7 linked regions of the Homo sapiens genome follow. The protein of the gene in region 7 purifies or fractionates together with the protein of the main gene of each other region. This does not show direct contact. Each region holds a gene or a part of one and is shown on either strand. Other genes may lie near its edges.

Region 1 (4,290 bases), on a different chromosome or scaffold from region 7:
GCAGGCGGATCGCGAGGTCAGGAGATGGAGACCATCCTGGCTAACACGGTGAAACCCCGTCTCTACTAAAAATACAAAAAATTAGCCGGGCGTGGTGGTGGGCGCCTGTAGTCCCAGCCACTCAGGAGGCTGAGGCAGGAGAATGGCGTGAACCCGGGAGGCAGAGCTTGCAGTGAGCCGAGATCAGGCCAGTGCACTCCAGCCTGGGCGACACAGCGAGACTCCGTCTCAAAAAAAAAAAAAAAAAAAAAAAAGAAAGGCTGCATCTTAGGGAGGTCAGAATACAGCTCCGAGAGCAGGGCGCAGAGGCTCACGCCTGCAATTCCAGCACTTTGGGAGGCCGAGGAGGGCGGATCCGATGAGGTCAGCAGTTCGGACCAGCCTTGACCAATACGTTGGAAACCCCGTCTCTACTAAAAATACAAAAAGTAACCAGGGGTAGTATTGCACGCCTATAATCCCACCTACTAGGGAGGCTGAGGCAGGAGAATTGCTTGAACCCAGGGGGTGGAGGTTGCAGTGAGCAGAGATCTCGCCACTGCACTCCAGCCTGGGCAACAGAACGAGACTCCGTCTCAAAAAAAAAAAAAAAAAAAGCGCGATAGGCGATTACTGGTCAGTGGTCAATATAGGTCAAGGGACGAGACAGGAGAGAGCTTTCTAAGGTTGTGGGCCTTTTTATTTTTTATTTTTTTGAGGCGTAGTCTCGCTGTGTCGCCCAGGCTGGAGTGCAATGGTGCGATCTAGGCTCACTGCAATCTCCGCCTCCTGGGTTCAACCAATTCTCCTGCCTCAGCCTCCCCAGTAGCTGGGATTACAGGCGCCCGCCCTCACGCCTGGCTAATTTTTTGTATTTTTAGTAGAGACGGGGTTTCACCATGTTCGCCTGGCTAGTCTTTTTTTTTTTTAGACGGAGTCTCACTCTGTCACCCAGGCTAGAGTGCAGTGGCGCTATCTCAGCTCACTGCAACCTCTGCCTCCTGGATTCAAGTGATTCTCCTACTTCAGCCTCTCGAGTAGCTGGGACTACAGGTGCCCGCCACCCCGCCCGGCTAATTTCTGTATTTTTAGTAGAGACGGGGTTTCACCATATTGGCCAGGCTGGTCTCGAACTCCTGACTTTGTGATCCGCCCGCCTCAGCCTCCCAAAGGGCTGGGATTATAGGCGTGAGCCACGGCGCCCGGCATCCAGGCTAGTCTTGAACTCCTGACCTCAAGTGATCCGTCCGCCTGGGCCTCCCAAAGTGCTGGGATTACAGGCGTGAGCCACCGCGCCCGGCCAGGTTGTGGGTTTTAATGGGACCATCTCACTGCCTACCGTTTCCTTTTTCCGTCCGAACAGAAGGGGCCTGAGCAGTGAACTGACAGTGGCAACGCCGGGTGAGGCGGGATGGAGGAGTTTACGAGCCTGGGTGACGCCCTGTTCCGCGTCCTGGCCCCGCCCCTCCCGGCAGAGCCCCTTGGCGCGTGACACAGGCCCCGCCCTTGCTGTACGCCATCAGCCGGCGCCGCGCCGCCGGGTGTTACTTTGCCCCGCCGGCGGGGCGGTCAGCCTCCTGTCACCGCCTGTTCCGGCTATGGTCCCGTCCGGTGTTCTGTAAGTTGGCAACCTAGGCTCCTGACGCGACCCTGGTCCTGATGGCGGCGGCGACGGCCGCGGCAGCCCTGGCGGCGGCCGATCCCCCTCCCGCAATGCCGCAGGCGGCAGGGGCCGGAGGGCCCACAACCCGCAGAGACTTCTACTGGCTGCGCTCCTTTCTGGCCGGAGGTGGGTCCATGCCACGAAGAGCCAGCCGCGCTCTGAGTGGCGGGGGCAGGACTGTGGGCAAGTGGGATGCAAGCGGCCTCTATGACATTCCTGGACTCTGGCTGCTTCAATGTTCTGTTAGATGTCTGCCCTGACCTGCTGTAACCTCTTTCTAGTAATCACTTGACTAATGACAGCTAGGTTATGGGGAGTGGGACCTTTGGCACTCCGGCAGAGGCTGGGGAGGTGGAAGGTCTGAATCAGGCACCCATTCTTCAGGGCTGGATAACAGGGAAAAGAGGAGGATCCCTTACAGAGACCCTGGGGTTTTAGTGAGACATGCTGGGCACTCCTTTCTTTTATAAAAACCGTGAGTGACCCAGTGTAGACTTGGATTTTGCTGTTTGCTTAAAGGAAAACAAATATTGGAGATCAGCTTTTTAATGACTACTGGAAAATTGTGCAAACTGTCTACAGCCAAAACTGGTTCCAGTGATTCTAGTAAACTGTGACACAGTACTTGACAAGCCCTATTATTGATGTGACTTTGGGATCAAAAAGTTCATATTGTCTCTTAGGAATTTCCTGGGCCTTCAAGCTCCACCCTTCCTTAATTACTTCTCTGGGTTGTGTAGGGGTGGGTTGCCCCTCCACACCTGTGGGTGTTTCTCGTAAGGTGGAACGAGAGACTTAGGAAAGAAAAAGACACAGAGACAAAGTATAGAGACAGAAATAAGGGGACCCGGGGAACCAGCGTTCAGCATATGGAGGATCCCGCCAGCCTCTGAGTTCCCTTAGTATTTATTGATCATTTGTGGGTGTTTCTCGAAGAGGGGGATGTGTCAGGGTCACAAGACAATTGTGGGGAGAGGGTCAGCAGACAAACACGTGAACAAAGGTCTTTGCGTCATAGACAATGTAAAGGATTAAGTGCTGTGCTCTTAGATATGCATACACATAAACATCTCAATGCTTTACAAAGCAGTATTGCTGCCCGCAGGTCCCACCTCCAGCCCTAAGGCGGTTTTTCCCTATCTCAGTAGATGGAGCATACAATCGCGTTTTATACCGAGACATTCCATTGCCCAGGGACAGGCAGGAGACAGATGCCTTCCTCTTGTCTCAACTGCAAGAGGCATGCCTTCCTCTTATACTAATCCTCCTCAGCACAGACCCTTTACGGGTGTCGGGCTGGGGGACGTTCAGGTCTTTCCCTTCCCACGAGGCCGTATTTCAGACTATCACATGGGGAGAAACCTTGGACAATACCTGGCTTTCCTAGGCAGAGGTCCCTGCGGCCTTCCGCAGTTTTTGTGTCCCTGGGTACTTGAGATTAGGGAGTGGTGATGACTCTTAAGGAGCATGCTGCCTTCAAGCATCTGTTTAACAAAGCACATCTTGCACCGCCCTTAATCCATTCAACTCTGTGACACAGCACATGTTTCAGAGAGCACGGGGTTGGGGGTAAGGTTATAGATTAACAGAATCTCAAGGCAGAAGAATTTTTCTTAGTACAGAACAAAATGGAGTCTCCTATGTCTACTTCTTTCTACACAGACACAGTAACAATCTGATCTCTCTTGCTTTTCCCCACAGGTTGTCATTACTTAATTATTTAAGATTCAAAAATTTAAAAATTCCACATTGAAGTTGTGTGCAGTGGCTCACTACTGTAGTCCCAGTTACTAGGGAAGCTGAGGCAGGAAGACTGCTTGAGTCCAGGAGATCGAGGCTCCAGTAAGCCATGATCACACCACTACCCTCCAGCCTGAGCTACAGAGAGAGACCCTCTCCTAAAAGAAGAAAAAAACAAAAACAAACAATAAAAATTCGCTGGGCAGGGTGGCTCACGCCTGTAATCCCAGCACTTTGGGAGACTAAGGTGGGCAGATCACTTGAAGTCAGGAGTTTGAGACCAGCCTGGCCAACATGGTGAAACCCTGTCTCTACTAAAACTACAAAAATTTGTCAGGCGTGGTGGCACTCGCCTGTAATCCCAGCTACTCAGGAGGCTTAAGGCAGGAGAGTCGCCTAAATCACTGTGGAGGTTGCAGTGAGCCGAGATCCTGCCATTGCACTCCAGTCTGGGTGACAGAGACACTCCATCTCAAAAACAAAATAAAATAAAACAAAAAAAACCTCACATTATGAGGATTTGTAGAAAGATAATATCTGAAGACTGCAGCAGTATTAAGTTTTTTTTGTTGTTGTTGTTGTTTTGAGACAGAGTCTCACTCCCTCACCCAGGCAGGAGTGCAGTGGCGTGATCTTGGCTCACTGCAACCTCTGCTTCCTGGGTTCAAGTGATTCTGCTGACCCAGCTTCCCAAGTAGCTGGGATTACAGGGGAATGCCACCATGCCTGGCTAATTTTTTTTCTTTTTCTTTTTTGAGATGGAGTCTCACTCTGTCGGCCAGGCTGGAGTGCAGCGGCACGATCTCTGCTCACTGCAACCTCCGTATCCGGGTTCAAGTGATTTACCTGCTTCTGCCTCCCAAGTAGCTGGGATTACAGGCGTGCACCACCATGCCCAGTTAATTTTT
Region 2 (4,524 bases), on a different chromosome or scaffold from region 7:
ATGTTCGCACTCCTTATTTATTTAAGTATTTTTTCTCTTTTTAAAAATTTATTTTTAATTATGATAAAATACATACAACATTCATCACTTTCACCATTTTTAAGTGTACAGTTCAGTGGTGTTAAGCACACTCACATTGTTTACATTTTTTATATTTTATTCTATGTCATCCAATTCTTCATGAAGTGTGACATTAGTTTTGAGGTGACCCTCAACCCATAACTGTAAAATAGGTTGGGTTAGATGAGCTAAAATGCTAGGAAGAAGAATGAACAACCTCCACAATGTAGGACCTCTTTATTTAGAAGAGAGTACACTCTAGGTTTTATTAGAGACAATGCCAAGTAAATGAAAAACAGCAGCAAACTGGGAATGTTTCTAAATTTTAAAAAAAGTCAAATGAGCAAAGGAGGGTAACAGAAAAAAAGCAGAAAAAGTTCTATTGATATGGCTATAAGATCTTTGTAACTATAACATGCCCCCAAGCTAAAATGGCTGTAGATTTATGTGTTTGGAGACCTCATCCCTCCTACTTCAGATTTATTACTATGGGGGCTGGAGAGAAATCTTGAAATAGGTGAATTCTAGATTATAAAAATCTCCAAGAACACATCCTTGCAAAACAACAACAAAAAACACAAATAAACAAATAAAAAAATCAATGCAACTGCCTTCTACTTTATTCAGAATGTTTGCATCTTTACTTATGAATATTTTAGACTAGTGGTCCCAGTGGTTTTTCCTAAGCCACACATGTGCAAGCATGTGCTCCTAAACAAACCCAGAGTCCTACTATAAATATCACTTTATTCATTCTGTGTAGGCAATTAAATAAAACATTCCTTTTAAAACCTTATTTTAAAAACTAAATACATATACTGGTGTTTCTGCTAAAGCCCACAGTATCTCTTTATTGCCTCAGTGGTAATAACCAGCTGCTCACTGTCTTTCACATAAAAACCATCAGGAACCTGAAGAGTGTTCTAATTCTCATTCTACTCCAACCTGAGTTCTCTCACCTTTCTCATAAGTCTAACAACTATTTTATTAGTGTGGTGACTCCCTTCTAAGTATCTCCCAGTATTTCACATCCCTCTTGAGTCTCAGAGCCTGAAAATAATGGATGTTGAGAGGAAATGGAATAATTACAGTCAGGTGTCAGAGTTGGTTACTTCTTCCTCCAGAAAAACTGGACCTATGAAGATGCCAAGAACTCCTATGTCTGCCCAAGCCAGGGAGGTAGGTGGTCAGAACCTCCTCATCTGTCCCCTTATCTGGATTTCCAATTAGAATGGACATTGTTACAAGCTAGTTTCAACAATATTCACAACAATATTCACAAGCCAATTGTTTTTAAAGTCTTTCTATTGTATACCCAGAAAGGATATTGTTTTTCAGCTTACAAGAATCAAGGCAAAATGAAGGGTGTAAATAAACTCAATGACTTTCCACTTATGATTGGCTATTCAGGGGAAAAAAGAAAGAAAGCAAAAGGGCAAGGTTGGTATAATATTTGAAAATAAATAATAATGGCAAGAATATTTGCTTCAAGTTGAATAGTAATAGAAAGATGAGTAGATGCTGTATTTAAAATAGTATAATGTTAGTATTGAGTATCCACAGTAAGACCTCAAATATCCCTCTTAATAGTGCACATTTAAAACACAGATTGCGCTGGGCGTGGTGGCTCACTCCCGTAATGCCAGCACTTTGGGAGGCTGAGGCAGGCGATCACCTGAGGTCAGGTGTTTGAGACCAGCCTGGCCAACACGGCGAAACCCCATCTCTACTAAAAATACAAAAATTAGCCGGGCATGGTGGCGGGCGCCTGTAATCCCAGCTACTCGGGAGGCTGAGGCAAAAGAATTGCTTGAACCCGGGAGGCGGAGGTTGCAGTAAGCTGAGATCATGCCACTGCACTCCAGCCGGGGCAACCAGAACAAGACTCCGTCTCAAAAAATAAAAAAAATTAAAAAAGAAAAAACAAAACAAAACACAGATTGCATTGGAATATTTTAGTGCAATGCAATGGGGAAATAAAGAACACTATCTCAATGGGCAAAGAGTCTTCATCTCTACATTTAGAAAAGCTGGAGGAAGTTTTCCAAGATCTTGTTTGACCTCTCTTTTCTTCAGAATGCATTTTGGAAAATGAATTTTAAAAGCAACTTACTGTTCTGCAGCCCTCATCAAATACCCTTGTATCTCCTCTGCTGAATTTGGGGAAGGAAGAAGACACTCACCACACTAAAAAAAGCCAGACCATTGGGAAGTATGTCAATATCTTCAGAGCCAGCTTCTGTAAGTTTAAGGAACAGATAAATGTCATGTTCAAGTTCTGTTATTTGTTACACAGAGCATAACTGGGACTCTGTTTACTTTATCAGAGTGACTGTATCTTTAGGGATGGTTCTGATGTTTTTTCCAAGGAACCATTCTTTTTAATAAATGTCAGTTTAAACCCCTTCCTGAAGTGAACTTCTGACTTTAAATGTTAGATATTTTATGTTTACTCAAATCAAAGTCAAGTTATCACCACATTTCCAGCTATAATACTGAAAAAGTTGACATCTGTACACTCTCATGATAAACATCCAGATGTCCGTATAAAAGTAATTGACATCAGGGGAATATTACTTTCTGAAGGAAGGGCTCATAGGCATTTAACCATGCAAATATCCTTGTCCTCTTCTTTGCTCATTCAATCTGAAGCAAACAGACATCTTTCTCATTAACAGAGGTAAAACACCTGGGATTATATATTCCTTCTTTTAAAAACAGTGCCTACTTGTGCTCATAAGCAAAGAAAGCTTTTCTATTTAATCTTTAAATTTAGGCTTTAAATTAGAGAAAAAAACTAGCAGAAGAAAATTAATGAAAAATACCATGCACCTAAGCCAGTTGAAGTTTCTAACTCCTGTCTCTGAGGCAGGCTACAATTACTATTGATTGTTTATTGACTGTCTGCAGTACACTCCACACAGCACAGCAAATAATTAGACATAAGACTTTCCCCAGCAGTCTCACTGTATAAATTCTACAGACAGATAATAGACCCAAACACAAGAAAAGAAGAATAAAAATGGCTTAGATTAAGCCAAACCATGACACATTCTTTGAGTCTACAAAATCCAATCTTCCTCTTTAAGACTTCTCCATAGGATTTCTTCAAGGTTATTTCTAGGTTGTCAAAACCAAACAGCATCTATCTATCCAGCCATTTTGGTCTTGCTTCATGAGTTTGCATTTAGCCAGTTGCCTCCAGTGTTGCTTGCTCCATCGTAGTGCAGAAAAACAAAACAAAATAAAAATGCCAAGAACTTCACATTGTAAAGATGACCCATCTGCCTGCTCCTCAGAAAGAAGATACACAGAAATAAGCTTAAGCATGGCATAGCGGAGGAGTTCTCAATCTGGGGTCTGTGGATCACTTTTGGGCTTCAAAGTATCTGTGAACCCTCGGAAATTCTATGCAATGCAAAATGTCTCATGTATGCACAGATGAGAACGTTTCTGTAAAAACGGTCCTTGATTTTCATCAGATTCAAAAAAGAGACTGTGATTCCCCCAAAAAGGTTAAGAATGACTAGACTCTAGTTCCACGGTGGTTGTCCACTGGTAATAAGTTAAGAATCAGGGGAACGCTACACCACATACACATGTATACACAGCACATACACATGTACACACAGACACACACACACACACACACACACACACACACACACCGAGAGAGAATTCTAGTCCAGGTTTTGCTTTTCAGTCCTATTTAGTAGAAGCTCAATTAATTAAAATTTGTTTTTCCTGAAAATTATTTTAGAAAATTTAATTTCCAAGTATACACGTGGAAAAAGAAGATATATAGAAAAAATTAACAATGCTTCTTTGATAGGATTATGAATGATTTTTATTTTTTTCTTTATACTTTGTTTAAAATTTTCTACAAAATTGTATATTTTTTAATAATTAAGGAAAGAGAAATCTTTTTTTAAAAAAATACATTTATTTCAACCATATTGTAACTTCTGTTTAACTCCATTGCCTAATTCCAATGGAAAAAATGTATCTATCTGTAGCCTTCTTTGGAATATTTTCCAGATCTTCTCCCCGTCATCATTTCTATAGCCACTACTGCAGGAAGGTTTTATCATCGTGTATCCCCTCTTCGGTGTGATTATGTCAGGAGCAGTCAATGCTAGAGAAATTTTTGCTCCTCTAATTTAATAATAATAACTAACATACATTAGGTACACCAAGTACCAGGCTCCTTGTAAATACCCTGCATACAATATCTCATATGATTATCTTTTATTTTAGAGTGAAGACTATTGGAGGCTTTGGAAAAGTTAAGCAATTGCTCAAGGTCACAAACTGGGAAGCTGGGACTCAAAGCCTTTGCTCTGACTTAAAGGCAAACAGAAAATATTCAAGTTAGAATTTAATGAATTTCCTCTCTCAGAAACATCCCCTGATTCCTCTGTAAAGCCACTTCACTTGTAAATTCAATTGTGGTCAATTCCATAT
Region 3 (4,524 bases), on a different chromosome or scaffold from region 7:
TGAACTCCTTCCCTTCTAGGCACAGGAAGTCCTCCCCGGGCTGGATGATGCCGCATTTGGCTGCGATGGCCCGGGCCGTGTTGATGTTGTCCCCAGTCACCATGCGGACTGTGATGCCAGCACGCTGGCATTTTCGGATAGCTTCAGGGACCTAGAAGAGACAAGAGAGGTGGGCGGGGCCATCGAGGCAAGACGTATTTTGGGTTGAGGCAGTACCCCTTCCTCCATCAGATCTGCAGGTGGCCCAAGGTCCAGCAGAGGTGAGAGTAAAGCCATCCGATTCACGTGCTCAGAACACTTGTGTTAGCCTACAGTTGGGCAAAAGCATTGAACACAAAGCCTATTGTGGAATACAGTGCTGATTATCTCATGTAACTCATTGAATCCTGCACTGAAAGGGAAAAGCATGGGACTCGAAGTAAAGTTTCTGCTGAATGTGCATCACCTTTGCACCAAGTTACAAAATTGTTAAAAGTTGGGGACCACCTGCATCACATTAGATTCTGGAGAAAGAGAAAGAGGTTCCCCAGTGCTGAGTGGAAAGCGAACAGCCTGCAAGGGGTTGAGAGCGGGAAGCCAGGAGACTGGCCGGGAGGTGGTGGCATTGTCCCAGTGGTGGGGGGACAGGGAAGACAGTTCCCAAATGAAGAGGTATGTGGCTCTTCAGGCTCGGGGACAGAGAGACAGGGTCAGGCAGCTGATGCCACTGAGGTAGACGGGCAGGGGGAGAGGAGAAGAGGAGCCAGGTTCAGAGTTTGGGAACCTGAATGAGGAGGTCAAGCCTAGGCAGTGGGGCTTGTGAGCACCGTCGGGTAAGTGTAGAAGCCTAGGTGTGGCCGAGCCGCCAGGCCTGGGGAGCCTGCGGCGGTGGGGAGTAGACACGCAGGAGTGGGAGCCAGGGGTAGGGCAGCCGGGAGACACCAGGGGAGGACATTGACCTGGGAGTCCCTGAATCCTGGCGCCCCCTGAGGCCATGGGCAGGGGGGCTGTGATCTTTGCCAGGGAGACAGCTGGGGGCCCCACTCTAAGCTGTGACAGGGTGATCCAATGGTTCCTGCAGCATATACCACTAAGTGGCCTCACTGCCAGCCTCGGGGACACTTCGTACTCTCTGAGGATCTTGGGGTGCTGGATAACAAGATCACGAGCCACAAGAAGACAATTCTCCTTTGAGCCAGCGAATGCCTGTCCCTGAAAAGTCTGGAAGCCACCCCTCTGCTGCCACCAAGTGGCCGTGACGAGCCTGAAAACCAGCAGCTGCGAACCCAGGCCTCCTCCCTCCTCAGGCCCAGTGTGTGTAGCCCAGTTCCTTCCCCATGGCCCCAAAGGGCCAGGCCAGGCTGTCCTTCCTCGCCTGCTCAGCCCTGCTCCCTGCCTTCTCCCCAAGGCCCCACAGCACAGCAGCCAGCCAGGTGTCTGGAGAAGTTGCCAGTGCCCCCGGCCGGCCCAGCTCCAGCATCAATACCACCCCAGCCACAGGCTTCCTATGGCTCCCCAGGGCCCAGCCTCACGGGCCCTCCTCTGGCTGCAGCCGTGCCGCATCTCCAAGCACCCTGGCGGTTTCAGTGAGGCCCTTGTGTCCTACTGCCTGTTGCCGGCACCCAGGACTTCGCTGGGCCTTCTGTGCGTCCTCCTCAGCCACCACCAGGCTGGCCAGTCTTTGTGGGGGTCTGCCCAGCCTCCGCAGCCTGGCCCTGTCACTGTGGTCTACCCCTTGGACTCTCTCTCAGCCACTCTTAAGCTGGAAAGGAGCTGTCCCTATTCCCCAGGCCCCTCTGGCAAGATTCCTTCCTCTGCTCTGTGCTTCAGTTGCTCCCTGGTCCAACAGAGGGACTCGATGGCTCCTGTCCCCAAGTGTGGCCTTGCTTCGCCTCACCAGCACCCTCTCCTTCTGCTCTCCCAGGCTCAGTGGGGCCCGGGACTCATGCCGCTGCCCGCCTTTGCGGGGCCCATTTCCCTCGCTGGACTTCTGTCCCCTGTCCTCCGCTACCACCCATTTTCTCCCAGGGCAAGCTCGAGGTGCTCCCTCTCTGGGCGCAGTGACCATGTTCTCCTCGGGGCACGGGGCTGCTCTGTTGACATGAGCCATGGCTGGCGTTTAGACGCACTGTCTTTGAATTGAGTGTTTTTGCTACATGATCCAATACATGAATGCCTGTCTCCCGAAGGAGAGCCCAGAAGCTTCTCCTCCCAGGTTGCACCTGCACCCCCAGGGTGGCTCCTACAAAGACAAGTTGTCAGGGTCACAGTGGCCCTGCTTGTGACACAGGTGGGTGCCATGCAGAGGCCCTGGGGAGACAGAGGGGCACCCCATGCCTTGCATTCTCCCTCCGGGGCCGGCCATCCTCCACACTCTCCAGGGTCTGGGATCTTTCAACAACAAAGTGACTTCCCAGTGTCAAGGCCATGGCATCTGCCACGCGGCCCTCGAGGTCCCCTCATCTGGACTCCCCTGGTGGCATCGTCCATATGGGGATATGCTTCTGGGCTCCCTTTCCCGCCAGGACCTTTGCTGTGAGCTCGCCACAGGACGTCCTGACCGTAGAGTAGCCCCAGCCAAACCCTCAACCAATAAACGCCCACCCTGTGCCCCAAACCTGTGTCCCCTCAGGCTTCAGCACCACCTCCAGTCCATCGGTCCTGGGTGGATCAGATCCCAAATGTCGACGGTCTCTCCGCCACTGCCACCTTCTCACCTGGTAGAAGGTGGAGCCTGAGCTGGGCCCATAGGTCAAGCGGGAAGGGCTTTCCAGCAGGCAGGACAGAGCCTTTGTGCGGGTGTCAGGGTGAGAGCACCCAGGACGGGGCTCAAGTGTACTACGGAGGGACCGCAGCAGCTGTGTGTGAAGGAAGGCCGCCCCTACCAGTCCGGACAAGCTCGGGCAGAGGGCACAGTTACCAGGGCAGCTCACAGAGAAGGTGGTGGCTACCTCGGGCCGCACAGGGTCCTCAATGCCCACGACAGCTATGCAGGTGAGGTCACCCACGACCTCATTCTCGTTGTCCCAGTCGGGCTCCTGGCCTGCAGAGAAGTCCCGGTAGGCGATGCAGATGGTGCGGAGGCCATCGCAAGCCATCGGCTCGATGATCTTCCTCACCATGTCGTCCCGGTCCCGAGGCCGAAAGCCCCGGAGTTCGCCATTGCTGTTCAAGATGTTGGTGCACCTAGGCAGGGGGTGGGCAGAGATGAGGTGGAGGTGGGGAGAGAACAACAAGGAACAGCGCTGGTCACACTGGATTGGGGGCTTAGTCAAGGACTGGGGTCCTTATCAGAGAGGAGTGCCCCGTGTGAGAACACAGACACACAGGGAGAAGGGCGTGTGACAACAGGCAGAGATTAGAGAGGGTCAGCTGCAAGCTGAGGAACGCGAGGACTGGCAGCCACCACCAGAAGCTGGAGGATGCAGGATGCATCCTCTCTGAGATGCTTTGGAGGCGCTTCGGCCCTGCCCACGCCCTGCTTTTGGACTTCCGGCCTCCAGAACTGGGGGAGAATCCATTTCTGTTGCTTGAGGGCACCAGGACGCTCATGCACTGCTGCAGGCTGAGAGACCGGGAGGGAGGCAGGAGCATGTGGCTCATGGCAGCTCCACCACAGACTTCATAGGGCAAGCGGGTGGAACCTGGGCAAAAACTGAAGTCTGTGGACAATCGCTATAACCACGTCCAGGCAGCCACAGCCTCAGTAGAGCGCTCATGACTCCAGGAGCTTCTCAAAAGGGACAGGACTTGGGAGGATTCAGGTGGGGAGAGGAGGGAGCAAAGGAGCCGAGGGTCACAGAGGCGGGCATGGTGGAAGAAGCCAGTGGGGCTGTGAGTGCCAGGTGCTGCCACTGCATGGGAGGCTGGTGACGAAGGAAATGATCATAACAGAAGCTGTGTGGACGGAGAGCCTCCTATGGATGTGGATTCACCCACGGAACCCTCACACCCCTCCCCAGAGATAAGTATTCTGTGATCTCCATGCCACCAGGGAAACTGAGGCATGGGAGTAAGGGGGAGTGAAGCTGGGCTGGGCCTTTTGTCCGCAGTGCCTCAGTGTCCCTCAGTGCCCACCAAAAAAGAAGCACAGAAAGAGGGCTGAGGCCCCCACACCAGCAGGGATGGCTCCAGGGAGGAGGTGGTCCTGGCCCTGGCAGTGAGCGCTGCACCTGGCAGAGTTCTGGGAGAGCGCTGTGGGTGGGGCGGCCAGGCAGGGTGCACTTGGTGGTCCAGTCCGCAGAACACAGGAAGGAGCGTGGGCCTGGGCCTTTGGGGAGCCCTGGGCGTCCTGCAGAGGACCTTGCCCTGAGGGCCCTGGGACGGCAGTCATGAGGAGCGAGGTGACTTGTGGACAGAGACGCCAAGGCCAAGGGTGTGGAGTCCGGGAAGGCTGAGTGGGAGTGGGGAAGCCAGGGCATTTGGAGGTGACGCTGTGCACTCTCCCTTACTTTGTTCTAATAGCTTTATTGGGATATAATTCACGCACCACACAGTCCACCCATTTAAAGTAGATAATTCGATGGTTTTTAGTATAGTCACAGA
Region 4 (4,524 bases), on a different chromosome or scaffold from region 7:
TCTCATTTCAACCAATATAACCACATTGCCAGGCAGAGCATCTTCAGAAAATAAGTGCCTGAAACTCCTGGCTAGGCTACTACAGATGTGAACCATGGGTGTTCCCTTTTCCTTGTCTGTAAAAGAGGAAGAATGGTGCCTACTTTGTAAAGATGGAATTATTTACATAATAGAACAATACTTGCACACAGCAGCACTCACTAACTGCGACTGAGTGTGTTACTAACCCACCCTCTTCTTTTTCCTCCACATTCAATCACAAAGCCCTATCAGCTACCACTAAAATAGATTTGGAATTCTTTTCAATCTTAACATCCACTCTTTCCACTCCCCTAACCATCATTTCTCACCTGGATGACTACATTACCTTCCAAGCTGGCCCTTTTACAGAGCTCCACACAAATGTCACTTGCTCAGTAAGATTTTCCAAACCCCTACCTCTCACCCACCAGGCTAAACAACCTGGCATGGCACAGTAAATTTTCATTTTCTTGTTATTGTTTGTCTTCCCACACTAGAATGTGACCTCCATAATGGCAGGTACATTGTCTATCAAACATTGTACCCCTTGGTACCCAGGACAGCACCTGGAACAATGTACACACGGGAATATTGCAGGAATTAAGGGATCTGGGTTCTAGAGATCCCTTACTGAAAAGTCATTACTTACTATTGAATGGTCCAACCACTAACATCAACCTCTAGTTAAGAAACCATAATAAAATGAGAAAATAGTAAAGGAAAAGTTAACTTCTGATTCCACTTGAGAAGCATCAGCTCCACAAAATCAGACAAATATACAAAAGAGGGAAAGTAAACTAGGTATATACGGAGTGCTGTTTTCCCGTGCCTTCCATCGTAATGGCACAGAGGTATCCCCATAGGTATGCAGGTATATTTCGTGCTACTGTACTAAAAAACTGATCTGTAAGAAGTTCATTTAACTAAAGAACCTTCCCACAATTCAAACACTTACTCAAAAGCTCTTGGAAGAAATCTAAAGTTACACACCAAACTGGGATGTACCTAGGAAAGGTGTACGCAGTGTAGGAGTAGGGGAAACTTTAACTTTCTCAAAGTATTGTGGCAGTGTTTGAATGTATAATTGCATCTGTGATTTTAAAATAGAAAAATCAGGCATTAAAAAACTATACACAAATGCAACCTGAAATAACTGGTTTGTTCACAGAGGTTTATATTTATAAAGTGTAAAAATAGAGTTCTAGTTACATTTTTTTAGTATTTTCCTATAAGTCTAGTAAGTTAAGCAGTTCCCTAACCAGAATTTAATTGTGTTAGACTGGAATTGTATTTGATTGGGAAATGTTTAATTTCCTATAGTAAAAGTTTTTATTATCCTGCTTAAATAAGCAAATGCAGAAACACACCCACACCTACACAGTCCTGTCACTCTCAGCTAAAGTGAAGGAAGCAATTTAAGATCTATTTAAGGTCTTCACATGAATGGCAAATAAGCAGAGAAGAGTAAAATTAAGGATACAAGGTATGATTCATATTCTTGTTAGGACTATAGGTATCAGAGACGACGCTGGGCAACATTTTGGCAGAAGTGCAGAAAGAATGTAGAAGTGTCATAAAAGGGAGTAGACTAGATGACTTATAAGCTCCCTTCTCCAATTCTAAGTAAACATGTTTCATTCTAATGAATGGCTGCTTTTACAGCAAGATTCAGAATATAAATTTAACTCATTAGGAGTTTAGGATTAGTTTGATGAATCAGTGCTACACAAAGAAAGATCCAGTTATAAATGTTCTCTAGATAAAAAGCCTTGACTGTTTCTGAGAAACTTGGAACAATGTTTCAGTTAAGAGTATGAATCAGCTAAGCATGGTGGATCAAGGACGGATCACTTGAGCCCAGGAGCTCAAAACCAGACTGGGCAATATGGCAAAATCTCGTCTCTACCCCCACTAAAAAATACCAAAAAAAAAATTAGCTGGGCATGGTGCTGTGTACCTGTAGTCCCAGCTACTCAGGAGGCTGAGGTGGGAGGACCGCTTGAGCCCGGGGGCAGAGGTTGCAGTGAGTGGAGACTGCACCACTGCACCTCTGGTTTGGGCAACAGTGTGAGATTCTGTCTTACAAAAAAAAGTATGAATCCTTGGAGAAGTTAAGGGCATATTAGAGAAATGTCAAAATCTTAAATTCTTTATCTTCTTTCTTGTGTTTTTCACACTATTTTACACTTAAAGCAGGTCAACTGAAAACCTGTTTATTTTATATAAACTTAAGAACTGTGCATTTTATTGTTATATTACATTAGCATTTGGAGAAGGGGGAATTAGCAGTCAGAGCCACTAATGTAAAATATATTCTGAAGTAAATTCCAAGTGTTACCAACTGATTTAAGCAAGATAAATCGGTAATTAGAATATTTATTAGGGGCTAGGCATGGTGGCTCACACCTGTAATCCCAGCACTTTGGGAGGCCAAGGCAGAAGGATCACCTGAGGCCAGGAATTCAAGACCAGCCTGGGCAACACAGAAAGACCCCATTTCTACAAAAACTTTTAAAAATTAGCTAGAAATAATGGCACGGCAGCTACTCCGGAGGATCACTTGAACCCAGGCATTCAAGGCTGCAATGAGCAATGATGGTGCCACCGCACCAGAGCCTGGGTGACAGAAGAAGACCCTGACTCAAAAAAACCCAAACCCCAATCTATTACGTGTTGATTAATTTTTTGGCCTACAAATTTCAATGATCAGTTTTCAGTGTATTGCATAGGAATGGGGGAAAAGAAATTTTTTAAAAAAGAAGCAAAGAAAAAAGAATTCTGACATTTGAAGACATCCTATTAACATTTATCAGCTTCACAGAACATGCTAAAAAGATTTGTCATTATTTATCATAACGATTACAGTTATTGTTTATGCAGCTATCTCAACATTTAGGATATATCTAGATTCCTAGGATAGAATTCTAGGCTATAAACTAACATAAATCTAGTTTCACGTTAACTCACGATGATAGAATTTAAGGTAACTTCATTCCTTTTTCATGAGTCCTACCCAATCCTCTGTCAGTACTCCAACTTTCCTTTTAATTTCCCATAAGTTTTCCTTAAACTCCAGCTCAAGGATATATATACGGCCTCTTACTCTGAGTCTCTAAGCATTCCACATTCAAGTTACTTCCTATCCTATAGATAGGGCTTTTAAGTGGCAAACAAACCAAACACCAGTATATTCACCACATCATACATAATTAATTGTCTTAGAAGTTATATCACCTTTAATTTATCAGGATTTCAGTTATTTCCATATATATATATATATAATCACAAGATGGTAATTTCAGAATCAGATAAGAATTAAAAGAATACCGAAATATGAATAAGTTGGTTATTATACAGAATGCAGATTTGTTCCGAAAATAAAACAGTTAATCAAATGTTCTACTTAAGGGATATGTGAAGGTAAATCTGTAAATAAGAAACTAAAAGATTATGGGAAAGTAAGTAAACTTATTACAGAAAACCAGGTTCTCTGTTAAAGAAAGCAGAGACCAAAATGCTTTAATACGTAAATACCTAAAGAAATAAGGCAAGTTAAACTACGAAATAACTACAAAATACTGAATAGGCAGAACTATGGAGTTCATTGTTGTGGGGGAATGAAGGGCAGCCCCTCAAAAAATGTGTCCACATCCTAAGCCCTGGAACCTGTGAATGTTTTCTTATTTGGAAAAAGGCTCTTTGCAGTTATAATTAAGGATCTTGAGATGAAGAGATCATCCCGGAATATCCAGGTGGGCTCTAAACCCAATGACAAGCATCCTTCTAAGAGAAAGGGAGAGTGAGATGTGAGACAGAAGAGGTGGCAGCAAGGACTGTAAGGCAGAGGTTAAAGTGATGGGGCCCCAAGCCAAGGAATGCCACCAGTCACCAGAAGTTGAAACCCACAAGAACGGATTCCCCCTAGGGCCTCCAGAGGGAGTAAAATTGAGCCTACACCTTGATTTCAAAGTGCTGGCCTCCAGAATCACGAGAACTTAAGTTCTATTATTTTAAGCCGCTTAGTTTGAGGTGATCTGTTTTGGCAGCACAGGAAAGTAACACAGGTACTTGAATCAATGCCTCTCAACACAGTAGAGAGACTTAACTGGATTTTCAATAGTCTCAAATTACGTGAAATATAAAAAAGCTTATAAAATTCTTATTACTTATTCTAAAGAAATAAATGGTGAAGAAAGTACCCATTTGAGTTTCAGTACCAATGAGAGATTCTGGAAGGACCTAAAAGGATAAACGAGTTATAAGGAACAATTTTAGCAGCACTGACTGAAATATTTCTCTATCTCAGAGATACATATGAAAATAAAGTAGTGAAATTGGGGAAGAAAAAGGTATTTACCCAGAATCCAAGAAAAATCCAACTAAATTTGTTGGAAGCAGGTTTACCTGCCAAGCACAGATCATAAATCTCATGGACCTACTACTACTTCTCTTCAGCTTAAAAATTCTATGTAAAAGAAAATATTCTTCTGCAAGAACTACTGT
Region 5 (4,360 bases), on a different chromosome or scaffold from region 7:
GATACAAAATCAATGTGCAAAAATCACAAGCATTCTTATACACCAATAACAGACAAACAGAGAGCCAAATCATGAGTGAACGCCCATTCACAATTGCTTCAAAGAGAATAAAATACCTAGGAATCCAATTTACAAGGGATGTGAAGGACCTCTTCAAGGAGAACTACAAACCACTGCTCAACACAATAAAAGAGGAAACAAACACATGGAAGAACATTCCATGTTCATGGATAGGAAGAATCAATATCATGAAAATGGCCATACTGCCCAAGGTAATTTATAGATTCAATGCCATCCCCATCAAGCTACCAATGACTTTCTTCACAGAATTGGAAAAAACTACTCTAAAGTTCATATGGAACCAAAAAGAGCCCGCATTGCCAAGTCAATCCTAAGCCAAAAGAACAAAGCTGGAGGCATCACGCTACCTGACTTCAAGCTATACTACAAGGCTACAGTAACCAAAACAGCATGGTACTGGTACCAAAACAGAGATACAGACCAATGGAACAGAACAGAGCCCTCAGAAATAATACCACACATCTACAACCATCTGCTCTTTGACAAACCTGACAAAAACAAGAAATGGGGAAGGGATTCCCTATTTAACAAATGGTGCTGGGAAAACTGGCTAGCCATATGTAGAAAGCTGAAACTGGATCCCTTCCTTACACCTTATACAAAAATTAATTCAAGATGGATTAAAGACTTAAATGTTAGATGTAAAACCATAAAAACCCTAGAAGAAAACCTAGGCAATAACATTCAGGACATAGGCATGGGCAAGGACTTCATGTCTAAAACACCAAAAGCAATGGCAACAAAAGCCAAAATTGACAAATGGGATCTAATGAAACTAAAGAGCTTCTGCACAGCAAAAGAAACTACCATCAGAGTGAACAGGCAACCTACAGAATGGGAGAAAATTTTTGCAATCTACTTATCTGACAAAGGGCTAATATCCAGAATTTACAAAGAACTCAAACAAATTTACAAGAAAAAAACAACCCCATCAAAAAGTGGGCAAAGGATATGAACAGACACTTCTCATGTGCAGCCAACAGACACATGGAAAAATGCTGATCATCACTGGCCATCAGAGAAATGCAAATCAAAACCACAATGAGATACCATCACACACCAGTTAGAATGGTGATCATTAAAAAGTCAGGAAACAACAGGTGCTGGAGAGGATGTGGAGAAATAGCAACACTTTTACACTGTTGGTGGGACTGTAAACTAGTTCAACCATTGTGGAAGGCAGTGTGGCGATTCCTCAAGGATCTACAACTAGAAATAACATTTGACCCAGTCATCCCATTACTGGGTATATACCCAAAGGATTATAAATCATGCTGCTATAAAGACACATGCACACGTATGTTTATTGCGTGTGCAATATTCATACTATTCACTATTCACATACTCTATTCACAATAGCAAAGACTTGGAACCAACCCAAATGTCCATCAATGATAGACTGGATTAAGAAAATGTGGCACATATACACCATGGAATACTATCCAGCCATAAAAAAAGATGAGTTCATGTCCTTTGTAGGGACATGGATGAAGCTGGAAACCATCATTCTCAGCAAACTATCGCAAGGACAAAAAGCCAAACACTGCATATTCCCACTCATAGGTGGGAATTGAACAATGAGAACACTTGGACACAGGAAGGGGAACATCACACACCGAGGCTTGTCGTGGGGTGGGGGAAGGGGGGAGGGACAGCATTAGGAGATATACCTAATGTAAATGACAAGTTAATAGGTGCAGCACACCAACATGGCACATGTATCCAAATGTAACAAACCTGCACGTTGTGCACATGTACCCTAGAACTTAAAGTATAATTTAAAAAAAAAAAAAAAGAAAATAGTTGAATTCAGTAGGTCCTTACTTAATGCCATTTATAGGATCTTGGAAACTGAGATTTTAAGTGAAATGATGTATAACAAAACTACATTTTTCTCACAGCATTATAATGAAATGTTGAATGAAACATTTTTTTGAGGACTTGGTATATAGTTTTGCTTAAAGCTGCTGTTTCCAAGAACTTATTGATGACATTAAGGACTTGCTATATTCTGCTCCCTTACTTCCATATCTTCTCTGTAAGTGACTCTCACAACTATTCTTCCAGTCTCAAATATCTGCTGAATATCTGCCTACCATGTGCTAGGTTCTGTTCTAGATACTGATAACATATCAGTGAACAAAACAGACCCATATCTTACTCTATCACCTTTAGTGAATGTACTTATCTATAATTGGTATATGATGTAAATATATCATCATCAATTTATGTAGTAGTTTAACTTTTAAAAAATTCTGTTGTATGTCTTTTAAATCCTTGACACTGTTGTTTAAAGTCTCAGGAGGCAGAATTCTTAATGAGGTAAAATTATCTCATGGTACCACCTATTTTTTTTTTTTTGAGATGGAGTGTTGCTCTTTCACCAGGCTGGAGTGCAGTGTGTGACCTTGGCTCACTGCAATCTCCGCTGCCTGGGTTCAAGTGATTCTCCTAACTCAGCCTCCCAAGTAGTTGGGACTACAGGCATGTGCCACCACACCCAGCTAATTTGTTGTATTTTTAGTAGAGATGGGGTTTCACCATGTTGGCTAGGATGGACTCGATCTCCTGACCTCGTGATCCACCCACCTCAGCCTTCCAAAGTGTTGGGATTACAGGCGTGAGCCACCACACCCGGCTGGTACCACATTTAATTAAACAAATGATAAGCAGTACTTTTTAACACTGTGATAAAACATACCTTGGTAAGAGTGATCAGCAATCCTCTGATGGATGTGACGATGATTATTCCAACAAGAATGAAGGAAATGTGTTGGGACCAAAACTTCACCTGCCACCATAACAAGAAAAAATATCTGCTAAATCTCTGTTCAGAGAGACGTAAGGGCTAAGCTATATCCCAATCATTTACATGACTGTGAGAGGGAGCTTTATTAGACCCTACCTGATTTTTTTTCTTAAGGGAGAGAGGAAAGCAAGTAAGTGGCAAATAAAACAACTACAGAAAGACTGCAGTAAATACCTTAATTAGCAGACTTAATTAAACCTTAAAATTAAAAAAATATTTTTTTTGTAGAGCCAGGGTCTTGCTATGTAGTTCAGGCTCGTCTCAAACTCCTGGGCTCAAGCAATACTCCCACATCAGCCTCCCAAAGTGTTGGTACTACAGGCATGAGTCACCATGCCCGGCAGCAAGTACCAAGCAGTGATAAAAATAACGCTAATAAATCAGAAAAAAACAGAACTAATGATACAGTTTTACTGTGATAAATGAAAAGCAGGAATTAAAAGGAAACTAAATAATACCTTGATTATTTTCTATCTATGAATAATAGTTCCCTAATCACCAAAACTTCAAGGAATCTTTCTTTTTATAGTAAAAGAATATATAGACATTCTCAGCTAAATTCTAGGAAATAGTTGAACTTCACTGGAACCACATGATACCTTTTTCTCCTCCTGTATTGCTTCATAGTGAGAAGGAGTTTTGGGACCCTGTGTTTGATTCAGTTCTGAAAAGTATCTGAAAGGGAGCTGCTATTACTAACATCTAAATGATTTGTTATTCAGAATTACAAAATATAGCATAAACAGATGAATTACAGATGAAATATATACATGGCCATGTAAGTATCCTCAGAAAGTACAGAAAAGCAAAAGCATTGCTAAAAATTCAGCCCAGTAAAACACTTAAGGAAACACAAATGCAACAACAGCAAAGCATACTTTTTGTTGTTTTTTGAGACAGGGGTCTCACTCTGTCGCCCAGAGTGGAGTGCAGTGGCACTATCTCAGCTCACTGCAACTTCTTTCTCCCCGGCTCAAGTGATCCTCCTGCTTTAGCCTCCTGCATAGCTGGGACTACAGGTGCATGCCACCATGTCCAGCTAATTTTTATATTTTTTCTAGAGACAGGTTTTCACCATGTTGCCCAGGCTGGTCTTGAACTCCTGGACTCAAGTGATCTGTCTCGGCCTCTCAAAGTGCTGGGACTACAGATGTGGGCCACAGTACTGCGTGGCCTGTAAAGCATACTTAATATAATTTATATACCACTTGAAGAAAAGATATCATGTTCCTTCACACTCAAAGAGGATACACTATTGATCTAGCATCAAGAAACATGTACATTGAGCTGTTTCTCAAGGATTGGGGCTCAATTTGCTCTTGTTCATTTTCATTTCATCCAAGTCCTTTTGAGATTAGGGGCACGTCTGGCTGGGATGGATGGCTGGGGGTAGCACGCAGTCTGCGTCTAGGTTGACAGCACAGCTAAATGGCCTACACTGGGACTAAGAATATGACATTGGTCTTACTA
Region 6 (4,042 bases), on a different chromosome or scaffold from region 7:
CCCAGGTTGGCCTGCAACTCCTGAGCTCAAGCGATCCGGCCACCTCAGCCTCCCAGTGTTGGGATTACAGGCGTGAGCCACCGCACCTGGCCTTCCCACTTCTTTTTCTCTGCACACACACTTATAACATCTAAATTCCTTAGTATACAAGGCCATGTATACAGCCTTTTATCTTTTACCACAGCTGCATATGTGCTACCCTCCAGCTACATTAAACTGTATGCCACACCCCAAACACAATTTGAATGTTTTTTCATACTTCCGTGGTTTCTTGCACACTGTACACTGACAGCCAAGCCCTTCCCTCAGTCCACTTCTTAAGCATCTACTGCAGACTCAGTTCAAGCATGTCCTTCTTTGTGCTTCCACAGCACTCTGCACTGCCCTGGTACAAATCACACTGTTTTGTAGTCATATTTACCTGCTTGTCTCCTCCACAAGATTGTGAGTTCCTTAAGGGTGGGGATTATGTTTTATTCACATTTGTATCCCCAGCACCCACCACAGGACCTAACGTTTTATAGGAGCTTCACCTATGTTTGTTGAATAAATGGATGAATGAATAGTTCTCGTTCTGAGCAGAGCTCTGACCTCTATTTTCCTACTACTTCTGCAGCAAACAGTATCCATATATTAATATATGTGGTCCCTTACCAAACCCCCTGACTATCCACCCCTCCTCCCAGCAGTGCCAAACACCGCAGCCAAAATTTCTGATGCTCAGGCAGTTACAGGAGTGTGGGACTGGTCCAACTAGAAGAGGTGGAACAGAAGCCAATAGTTTCAGTGTAGGCCCTAACCAATGTCAGTGTTGCTATCAGAGTCCACCCCAAATCCCAGAGACAAGTGTTGCTGTCTACTTATCCAGAACCTAACCTTAAGTGTAATGAGGGGAAAACATATCTCAAGACCATTCCTTTAAGTGTGACTGGACTGGATGGCTACCTACTTACACCACCCTCCTCAAACCCTGATTCAACAAGAAGCACCCACAGGCACAGCAGATGCTTTTGTGGTAACTGAAGAAAACACAAAGGACACTTCTCTGAGGCTCTTCACTCTTAAAAGTCAGGCTCTACATCTTTAGCAAGCAAAAAACAGGACACAGTTTATTTTTCTACTTTCTTTTAATATCATTTTTTAAAGTTGGTAAGCAGCTAGACATCATTTAGAAGCAGACGGGTTAAAATAGACAAGAAATAGCAAAGACACATCCTTCACATCGTACAGAACTGTATTAGTATCCACCACCACCATCACAGGGGAGGGCTAGCTGTCACTGGGGTCAGGAGTACTCTCCATTATTGTGCAGGGGACCAGACAGCATTTAGGTGTGACGATGTCAAACTGAGTGGACATAGAGAGTGCCGGGATCAAGGTCTACAGTTTTGGCTCTAGACTTGCGTGAGGGTTGGTTACTCTTAATCTCTTCCAGGCTGTGCTGGATCCCATAGCCGAAGTAGATAGCAAAGCCTAGTGGGGAAAGGTAGCTGTGAGGTGGGGGTGTAAAGGCTTCATAGGTTTCCTACTTGAGACCAAGAGGGAAAGGAGCTGGGCTAGGACACCAAAGAAGCCTACTCTTCCCAAGTGGATACCTACCAATCAGCATCCAGACCCCAAATCGGGCCCAGGTACCAGCTGTCATCTGCATCATAAGGTAAATATTCACAAAGATGCTCATTAGTGGGAGGAGAGGCAAAGCAGGCACCTGAAAACAAAGTAAAATCTTCTTTGTACATACCACAGGTTGACCTAGAAAGAGATCCCTATCCTATGCAGGCCAGAAAAGGGTGAGTCCAACTCTTACTTGTCCTCTGCATTTCAGTAGCTGCTCATTTAGCATACCTCATGAGACTCCAAGAATATGCAGTTTGGGTAAATGGAACTGGAAAGGAACTAAAGAGGGTCAGAGAAGAAGTCTTTGGCCTAGGTACCTCCTATATCTTCCCTTTCATGTTCAATTAAAGAATATCTATGAACTTTATTAGACCTCAAGATATCTGGAGCCTATTCTCCCAAGATGGGCTGGCAAGGAAAAAAGACAGAGTTCATTTACCTTAAAGTGAAGGGGAGTGGAACTCTGTGGCTGTCTCCAGATGACCACAATGATCCCAATAATGAGCAGCAGGAGCAGCACAACCACTGCAGTCCACAGCAGGTCTCCAGAAAGCAATGGAACTGACCACTGGGCCAGCACCAGGCAAAGAGCAGTCAGCAGGACAGCTTCAAAGGTCAAGTTGAGAGACATCAAAACCAACTCTTAAGACCAACATGCTAAGACATTAGAAACCCTGTTCCAAGGAGAGTCGCTCTCTCTCTAGTTCTTCCTCAGCCACCAAATGCCACACACTTCGACCCAATCACGCTGATCTCAGAGCCACCCCAGAAAAATTCCACTGCTCACCAAGCAATGAGGAACAAACATAGACAATTTGGCCAGAGAGTGGAGTGGGGATGGAGTTGAGTGGGAAAAATAGTCCCCATAGGGTCAACTTCTCTGATTCAGTAGTTATTGCCTCCTCCTGCAACTCCACTTCTTCCCCAGTCTTTGTCTCCTGATCAGGTTGATACCTGAGGCAAAAGTAAGATGGCAGTATTAAGAACAACCTTTACTCACTTTATCATCTTCTCCCAGGCAGCTTAACCTTCCTCATCACCATTAAGGGAAGTTCTTTTTGGCAGGGTGAGATACCCAGATTCCTCAAAGAAAGTTGGAATAATGAAGGCGAAGGAGGAAAGAGGAGCAGATCTCCATCATTCCTCATCCAAGAATAAAAATCCAAATCACAGTATGCAGAGGAAGAGTCTCACCTGAGGATGAGAACACAAATCGACACCAGGGAGTAAGCAAGCAGGGTCCCAATTGACATGAGGTCCACAAGATCAGTGAGTTTGAAGAGGAATGCCATGAATGCTAAAATTAATAGGCAGGAAACAAGAAATGAGAGAAGGGAGTGGCAAAGTTAAAGAAGTTGGCGAAACAACTAAGGGAAGGGGAAAGAGGGTCTGTTACCTGCAATAATGCCAGAGACCACGGTGGCTATGATTGGGGTGCGTGTGCCGGTGTGGATCCGAGCAAGTACACGGAACAGGAGGCCATCCTCTGCCATCGCGTAGATCACCCGAGGCATGGGGAACATGGAGCCCAGGAGGCTGGAGAGGAGAATGCCCAGGGTGGCATGAGTTGACTGGGATCTCTCTTCCCAAGACTGTATGTTTAAAGAGTCTCCACTTTCCCCTCACAGCCCTTTTAAGGGGTATTCTCTGGTACTGAATGCTATAACCTGAGACTCTGACAGCAGAAGAAAACAAACATTTGATACTGACCTGGTAGAAAGAGCACAGAGGGAGCCAACAGCCACAACATAGCGGGCAGGAGCCCATCCAATGTAGAGAAATGCCTCAGGCAAAGGGCTCTCAGGCTGAAGCTGGTAGTAAGGCATCATCAGGGTGAGTGCAGAAGAGACAGCAAAATACGCCAAAAAGCAGACAGACAGTGAGATCACAATGCCCATCGGGATGGAACGCTGGGGATTCTGGGCTTCTTCTCCTGAAGGAAGGGCGTAAGGTTCTAAATTAGGGAAGCAGGCCCACTCCTCTACCACCCCCAGTCTGCATACAGCCTGGGCACACACTGTGCCCAAGCCCCAAACAGAATGGAATGACTGTGTTACCAGTGGTAGCAATACAGTCGAAACCAACAAATGCATAGAAACAGGTCGCTGCTCCACGGAGAATTCCCTCGAAGCCGAAAGGCACAAATCCTCCAGAGCCCAGAGGACCCAAGCTAGAGTGGAAGAAGGGTTGGAGAAGGTAAGGGTGTGTTCAGCCAACTCTGTATCTTTTCTCTAATGCCAAACCAGTTAGCTAGGTCTTCAAAGCCCAGCCTCCCATTTTTTCCCATCCCCATCCAGAATCCTTCAGCAGATCCCCTTCTTCCCCTTCATTTTCCCAGCTCTGCAGCTCCTAAGAGTGACCATCTAACCTATAGGTGTCATTGAGTTCAGCCATGGCCAATTCGTAGTCCTCTTCTGTGAGCTTC
Region 7 (4,524 bases):
GTGGTGAGACTGGCCCAAGGATAACTAGGTTTAGGCCATCTGAAAAGCATAATCAACACTAGTTATATTTCCTCGTCTCCCTATAAACATCACAGAGGGCAAAGTTGATTTTCACTGAAGCAGCCATTAAATGCTATCTCGCTTACAATATGATCAAGATCATGATTTTCCATTTCAAAGTTGATAGGGTATTAATCATAAAATAAATGTACTGAAAAGGAGAAAAGCACTAAATAATTTTTCCTTACCTGTGACATATTTAAAATTTTCAGAGTGAAATTTTCTAATCCTGTAATGTTTCTCTCCTCACAGTTCACCTTTGGGGATTTCAGACTTTCAGTGTTATTGGAGTCCTCTGTCGGGGCTGCGTCAGATTCCGCCACTTCTGGCTCTGTGTAATACTCCTCTTCTCTGTCAGGGAAGTGTGCTCCAGCGCCATCCAGAGAGAAAAGGCTCTCTCGGACGTTGCACCTTGAGTCCTCCGCTCCTCCAGCACCACAGGTGACGCCGCTAGGCTCTGAACTCACTTTGTCCTCAGCTTCCCCAGGAATCACAGACAGCATCACCATGTGATCGCCTTGGGTGTCCAGCCCCAGCACCGCATTGGCCTCTTCTGCTGCCCTGTCCTGGCCCATCGGGTCATGCAGGAGCTCCTCCTCACCCAGGTACACAGCCCCCACCTGGAGAGGGTGAGCAGGCTGCTCCTCTGACCATAAGCGACCACTTTCCTCTGCAACTAAAACATGCCAGCACATTCAGAGTCATATTTGACTTCAAAACAAATGAACCCCAAAGAATTACAGTTCCCCTCTAACACGAAATTTTCCCCTCTGGAGACAAAAAGGTCTCCTTTCATTAAACTATCAGAGAGCTACTCACCATTTCCCAGGTTAGGAAGAAGGTCACAAGCAGGTACTATTAATAAATTAATGAATGTCAAAGAAGGCCGGGCATGGTGGTTCACACCTGTAATTCTAGCACCTTGGGAGGCCCCAAGTCAGGTGGATCACTTGAGGTCAGGAGTTCAAGACTAGCCTGGCCAACATGGTGAAACCCTGTCTCTATTAAAAATATAAAAATTAGCCGGGCATGGTGGCAGGCACCTGTAATCCCAGCTACTAGGGAGGCTGAGGCAAGAGGATTGCTGGAACCTAGGAGGCGGAGGTTGCAGTGAGCCAAGACTGCGCCACTGCACTCCAGTCTGGGCGACAGAGCAAGACTCCGTCTCAAAAAACAAACAAACAAACAAGCAAACAAAATAATGAATGTCAAATAATAGACAAACACACAGCTCTGCCCTAAACTTGCTGCTTGCCATGTGGATTATAACCAAAAACATTCCAGTTCAGATATCTCATTAGGAAAATAGAATATAAACACTTTCATTTTTTGATAAGAGTTTCATTTGTTTGATAATATCCAAGAAAAGGATCATGGTTTTATGCAAGATTCTACTAGAACAAAGCATCTTTGCACACATTATAACAGTCCTGTGAGATGGGCAAGACAAGGGTTACCAAGACCACTGAACAGGTAACGAGGCAAGGCACAGAGAGGCTCAGCACAGTGTCCGATGGTACACAGATAGTAAGCAGCAAAGCCAAGTCTGCGAGCAAAGTTTTCTGGCTGCTACTCCAGAACGAGCCGTAGGCTCCCTGCCATGATACCTCGGGGATGCTGAGCCACACTGCCTGAAGAACACTGTTCAAGCCACACAGCAGCTCCTTCCTGAGGTGGCCTCTGACAGCTGGACTCTGCTCTCCTGCCTGCCACCCTTGGGCTGCTGCCCTTGGGAGTGCTGGGAGATGGGCTCGGCAGTGCAGAGGCAGCAGCAGGAGGAAGAAGAGAACTTTCCCCCACTTTGGAGCTAGAAGGTGGGTCTTGAGCATAATGCTCAGATAAGGGAAGAGTCCCAGGTAGTCTCGTACATCTATTTACCCAACTCCACTCACCTCCATAGCAATGCCTCCTGCCCTCCAACTCATCAACTCAACACCAGCTGCCAGACTTTGTGCCAGGCACCAACCAGCAGAAACCAGTGAGGCCAGCAGCCCTCACGAAAGCTCACCATGTGGTTAAGAAACCACCCGCTGGGTGATGAGTTCTGCGTGCCAACAGCATGTCACTGGAGTGTCAGTGACCAACTGACTTCAAAGTTGGGAAGGTCTGGGGGCTTCCTCAGGTATGCACATTTGTATAAGATTTCAAAGAATATCCCTGTAGAGCTTTTTGTTGTTGCTGATGCATAACAGATGTACATGTGATAATCACAAAGCACATGTGATAATCAATATATTCATGCAATTTGTAAAGATCAGATCAATGTATTTGGGATATCCATCACCTTAAATATTTGTCTTTTCTTCATGCTAGAATCATTCAAATTCTTCTCTTCTAGCTATTTTAAAATATACAATAGGCTATTATGAACTACAGTTACCCTACTGATCTACCTCACACTAGGGCATAGAGCTCTGTGGATTCATTCAGAGATTCAAAAACATTATCTGGGAATTCTGCTTCTGGCCAAGATGGAGTAACAAGAACCAGATTTACCTTACCTACTGAAACAACCAAATAGATAATATATATAAAACAACAGTTTCAGGAAATCAGTTATGAGGCAACAGAGGATAGTGACATCCGAGAAACAGGCGACAAATGAAGAGAACCCTACAACTGCTCCAACTTACTGCCTTGATGGCGTTCCCACTGTGGCTCAGGGAGGGGAAATCCAGGCAGAGCCCAGCAGACTCTCCCAGTTGAGGAGATGGAGCTAAGAGTCCAAGGAGACCAAGAAGCCATAGTTTGCAAGACAGAATACTGCAGATGAGAGGAGCTATCTAGAGAGGGGACTCCAGAGATCTGCAGAGGCCCCCCCAAGTATACAGCAGGGTACGGGTCATCACATGCATGTGAGTAAACTACCCAGTGCCAGAGAAAGAACTACCAGAAAGGATGGGAAGGAACAGTACCCAACATTCACACAGAGCAGGGAATGGTACCTCTTCTTACCAGCTAGACTGAAAAACTTCATAATTCACAGGGTATTGAGTAGAGTATACAAAAGGACCTGCGTCAGTAGTGGGACACTATTAACCCTAAAGAAAATAACAGCTTGCTTGCTTAAAAGCAAAACCTGAAAGAATCAAGCTGTTCTCAAGTAACTTCACTGTACCCCAGAACAAAGCTCAAGAATATATATACGGGGCCAGGTGCAGTGGCTCACGCCTGTAATCCCAGCAATTTGGAAGGCCGAGGTGGGTGGATCACCTGAGGTCAGAAGTTTGAGACCAGCCTGACCAACATGGTGAAACCCTGTCTCTATTAAAATATAAAAATTAGCCATGCATGGTGGCGGGCACCTGTAATTTTAGCTACTCGGTAGGCTGAGGCAGGAGAATCACTTGAACCCAGGAGGTGGAGGTTGCAATGAGCCGAGATCATGCCACTGCACTCCAGCCTGGGCAACAAGAGAGAAATCCGTCTCAGAAAAAAAAAAAAAAAGAATATGTATAGGGAATCTAAAATATCCAGCATTCAACAAAGTAAAATTCATGTCTGGCATCCAGTAAAAAATTATCAGACATATAAGGAAGCAGGAAAATAGGACACATAATGAGAATAATCAATCAAGCCACACTGACCCAGAACTTGCACCCATGTCACAATTAGCAGACAAGGATATTAAAACAATAATTGTAACTGTATTGCATTCAAAAAGTAAAGTAGATATCAAGATATAAGATATTAAAAATATCAAATCGACCTGGGAGGCAGAGGTTGCAGTGAGCCAAGATCAAGCCATTGCACTCCAGCCTGGGCGAAAGAGTGAGACCCTGTCTCAAAAAAATAACTAAATAAAAATAAAAACAATCAAATTGGCCGGGCTCGGTGGCTCACACCTGTAATCTCAGCACTTTGGGAGGCTGAGGCGGGTAGATCACCTGAGGTCGGGAGTTCGAGACCAGCCTGACCAACATGGAGAAACCCCATCTCTACTAAAAATACAAAATTAGCCTGGCGTGGTGGCGCATGCTTGTAATCCCAGCTTTTTGGGAGGCTGAGGCAGGAGAATCGCTTGAACTTAGGAGGCAGAGGTTGTGGTGAGCCGAGATAGTGCCATTGCACTCCAGCCTGGGCAACAAGAGCAAAACTCTGTCTCGGGAAAAAAAAAAAGATCAAATTGTACCCTTTTTTTTTTTTTTTTTGAAACTGAGTCTTGCTCTATCGTCCAGGTTGGAGTGCAGTGGCACAATCTCAGCTCACTGCAGCCTCCACCTCCCGGGTTCAAGCAATTCTCCTGCCTCAGCCTCCCAAGTAGCTGGGATTATAGGTGCCTGCCACCACACCTGACTAATTTTTGTATTTTTTAGTAGAGATGAGGTTTCGCCATGTTGGCCAGGCTGGTCTCGAACTCCTGACCTCGGGTGATCCTCCCGCCTCGGCATCCCAAAATGCTGGGATTGCAGGCATGAGCCACCGCGCCTGGCTTTCTTTCCTTTTTTTTTTTTTTTGAGATGG

What was found.
Region 1: the proteins of TXNDC15 (region 7) and SLC25A16 purify together in Homo sapiens (affinity purification with mass spectrometry, with the first as the bait; one large-scale study listed by BioGRID). This does not show direct contact.
Region 2: the proteins of TXNDC15 (region 7) and PON2 purify together in Homo sapiens (affinity purification with mass spectrometry; 3 studies listed by BioGRID and IntAct, with this or other methods). This does not show direct contact.
Region 3: the proteins of TXNDC15 (region 7) and ATP2B3 purify together in Homo sapiens (affinity purification with mass spectrometry; 3 studies listed by BioGRID and IntAct, with this or other methods). This does not show direct contact.
Region 4: the proteins of TXNDC15 (region 7) and AGPAT5 purify together in Homo sapiens (affinity purification with mass spectrometry, with the first as the bait; one large-scale study listed by BioGRID). This does not show direct contact.
Region 5: the proteins of TXNDC15 (region 7) and GPR89B purify together in Homo sapiens (affinity purification with mass spectrometry, with the first as the bait; 2 studies listed by BioGRID). This does not show direct contact.
Region 6: the proteins of TXNDC15 (region 7) and SLC7A3 purify together in Homo sapiens (affinity purification with mass spectrometry; 3 studies listed by BioGRID and IntAct, with this or other methods). This does not show direct contact.

The regions. Positions count from the first base shown.
Region 1 is NC_000010.11:68,524,724-68,529,013, reverse strand, and holds the start of SLC25A16 (solute carrier family 25 member 16), read left to right. Parts: upstream 1-1,490; 5' UTR 1,491-1,638; coding exon 1,639-1,768; intron 1,769-4,290. UniProt on the Homo sapiens protein: May be involved in the transport of coenzyme A in the mitochondrial matrix. Very little is known about the physiological function of this carrier.
Region 2 is NC_000007.14:95,413,999-95,418,522, forward strand, and holds part of PON2 (serum paraoxonase/arylesterase 2), read right to left. Parts: exon of another isoform or gene 4,318-4,524; intron 2,300-4,317; coding exon 2,244-2,299; exon of another isoform or gene 2,191-2,243; coding exon of another isoform or gene 2,174-2,190; intron 1-2,173. UniProt on the Homo sapiens protein: Capable of hydrolyzing lactones and a number of aromatic carboxylic acid esters. Has antioxidant activity. Is not associated with high density lipoprotein.
Region 3 is NC_000023.11:153,551,676-153,556,199, reverse strand, and holds part of ATP2B3 (plasma membrane calcium-transporting ATPase 3), read right to left. Parts: intron 3,166-4,524; coding exon 2,931-3,165; intron 152-2,930; coding exon 1-151. UniProt on the Homo sapiens protein: ATP-driven Ca(2+) ion pump involved in the maintenance of basal intracellular Ca(2+) levels at the presynaptic terminals. Uses ATP as an energy source to transport cytosolic Ca(2+) ions across the plasma membrane to the extracellular compartment.
Region 4 is NC_000008.11:6,711,151-6,715,674, reverse strand, and holds part of AGPAT5 (1-acyl-sn-glycerol-3-phosphate acyltransferase epsilon), read right to left. Parts: intron 1-4,524. UniProt on the Homo sapiens protein: Converts 1-acyl-sn-glycerol-3-phosphate (lysophosphatidic acid or LPA) into 1,2-diacyl-sn-glycerol-3-phosphate (phosphatidic acid or PA) by incorporating an acyl moiety at the sn-2 position of the glycerol backbone.
Region 5 is NC_000001.11:147,986,944-147,991,303, reverse strand, and holds part of GPR89B (Golgi pH regulator B), read right to left. Parts: intron 2,873-4,360; coding exon 2,783-2,872; intron 1-2,782. UniProt on the Homo sapiens protein: Voltage-gated channel that enables the transfer of anions such as iodide, chloride, bromide and fluoride which may function in counter-ion conductance and participates in Golgi acidification.
Region 6 is NC_000023.11:70,924,471-70,928,512, forward strand, and holds the end of SLC7A3 (cationic amino acid transporter 3), read right to left. Parts: coding exon 3,986-4,042; intron 3,788-3,985; coding exon 3,675-3,787; intron 3,551-3,674; coding exon 3,328-3,550; intron 3,154-3,327; coding exon 3,014-3,153; intron 2,915-3,013; coding exon 2,812-2,914; intron 2,572-2,811; coding exon 2,405-2,571; intron 2,224-2,404; coding exon 2,057-2,223; intron 1,709-2,056; coding exon 1,600-1,708; intron 1,474-1,599; coding exon 1,343-1,473; 3' UTR 1,109-1,342; downstream 1-1,108. UniProt on the Homo sapiens protein: Uniporter that mediates the uptake of cationic L-amino acids such as L-arginine, L-lysine and L-ornithine. The transport is sodium ions- and pH-independent, moderately trans-stimulated and is mediated by passive diffusion.
Region 7 is NC_000005.10:134,883,907-134,888,430, reverse strand, and holds part of TXNDC15 (thioredoxin domain-containing protein 15 isoform 1 precursor), read right to left. Parts: intron 737-4,524; coding exon 249-736; intron 1-248. UniProt on the Homo sapiens protein: Acts as a positive regulator of ciliary hedgehog signaling. Involved in ciliogenesis.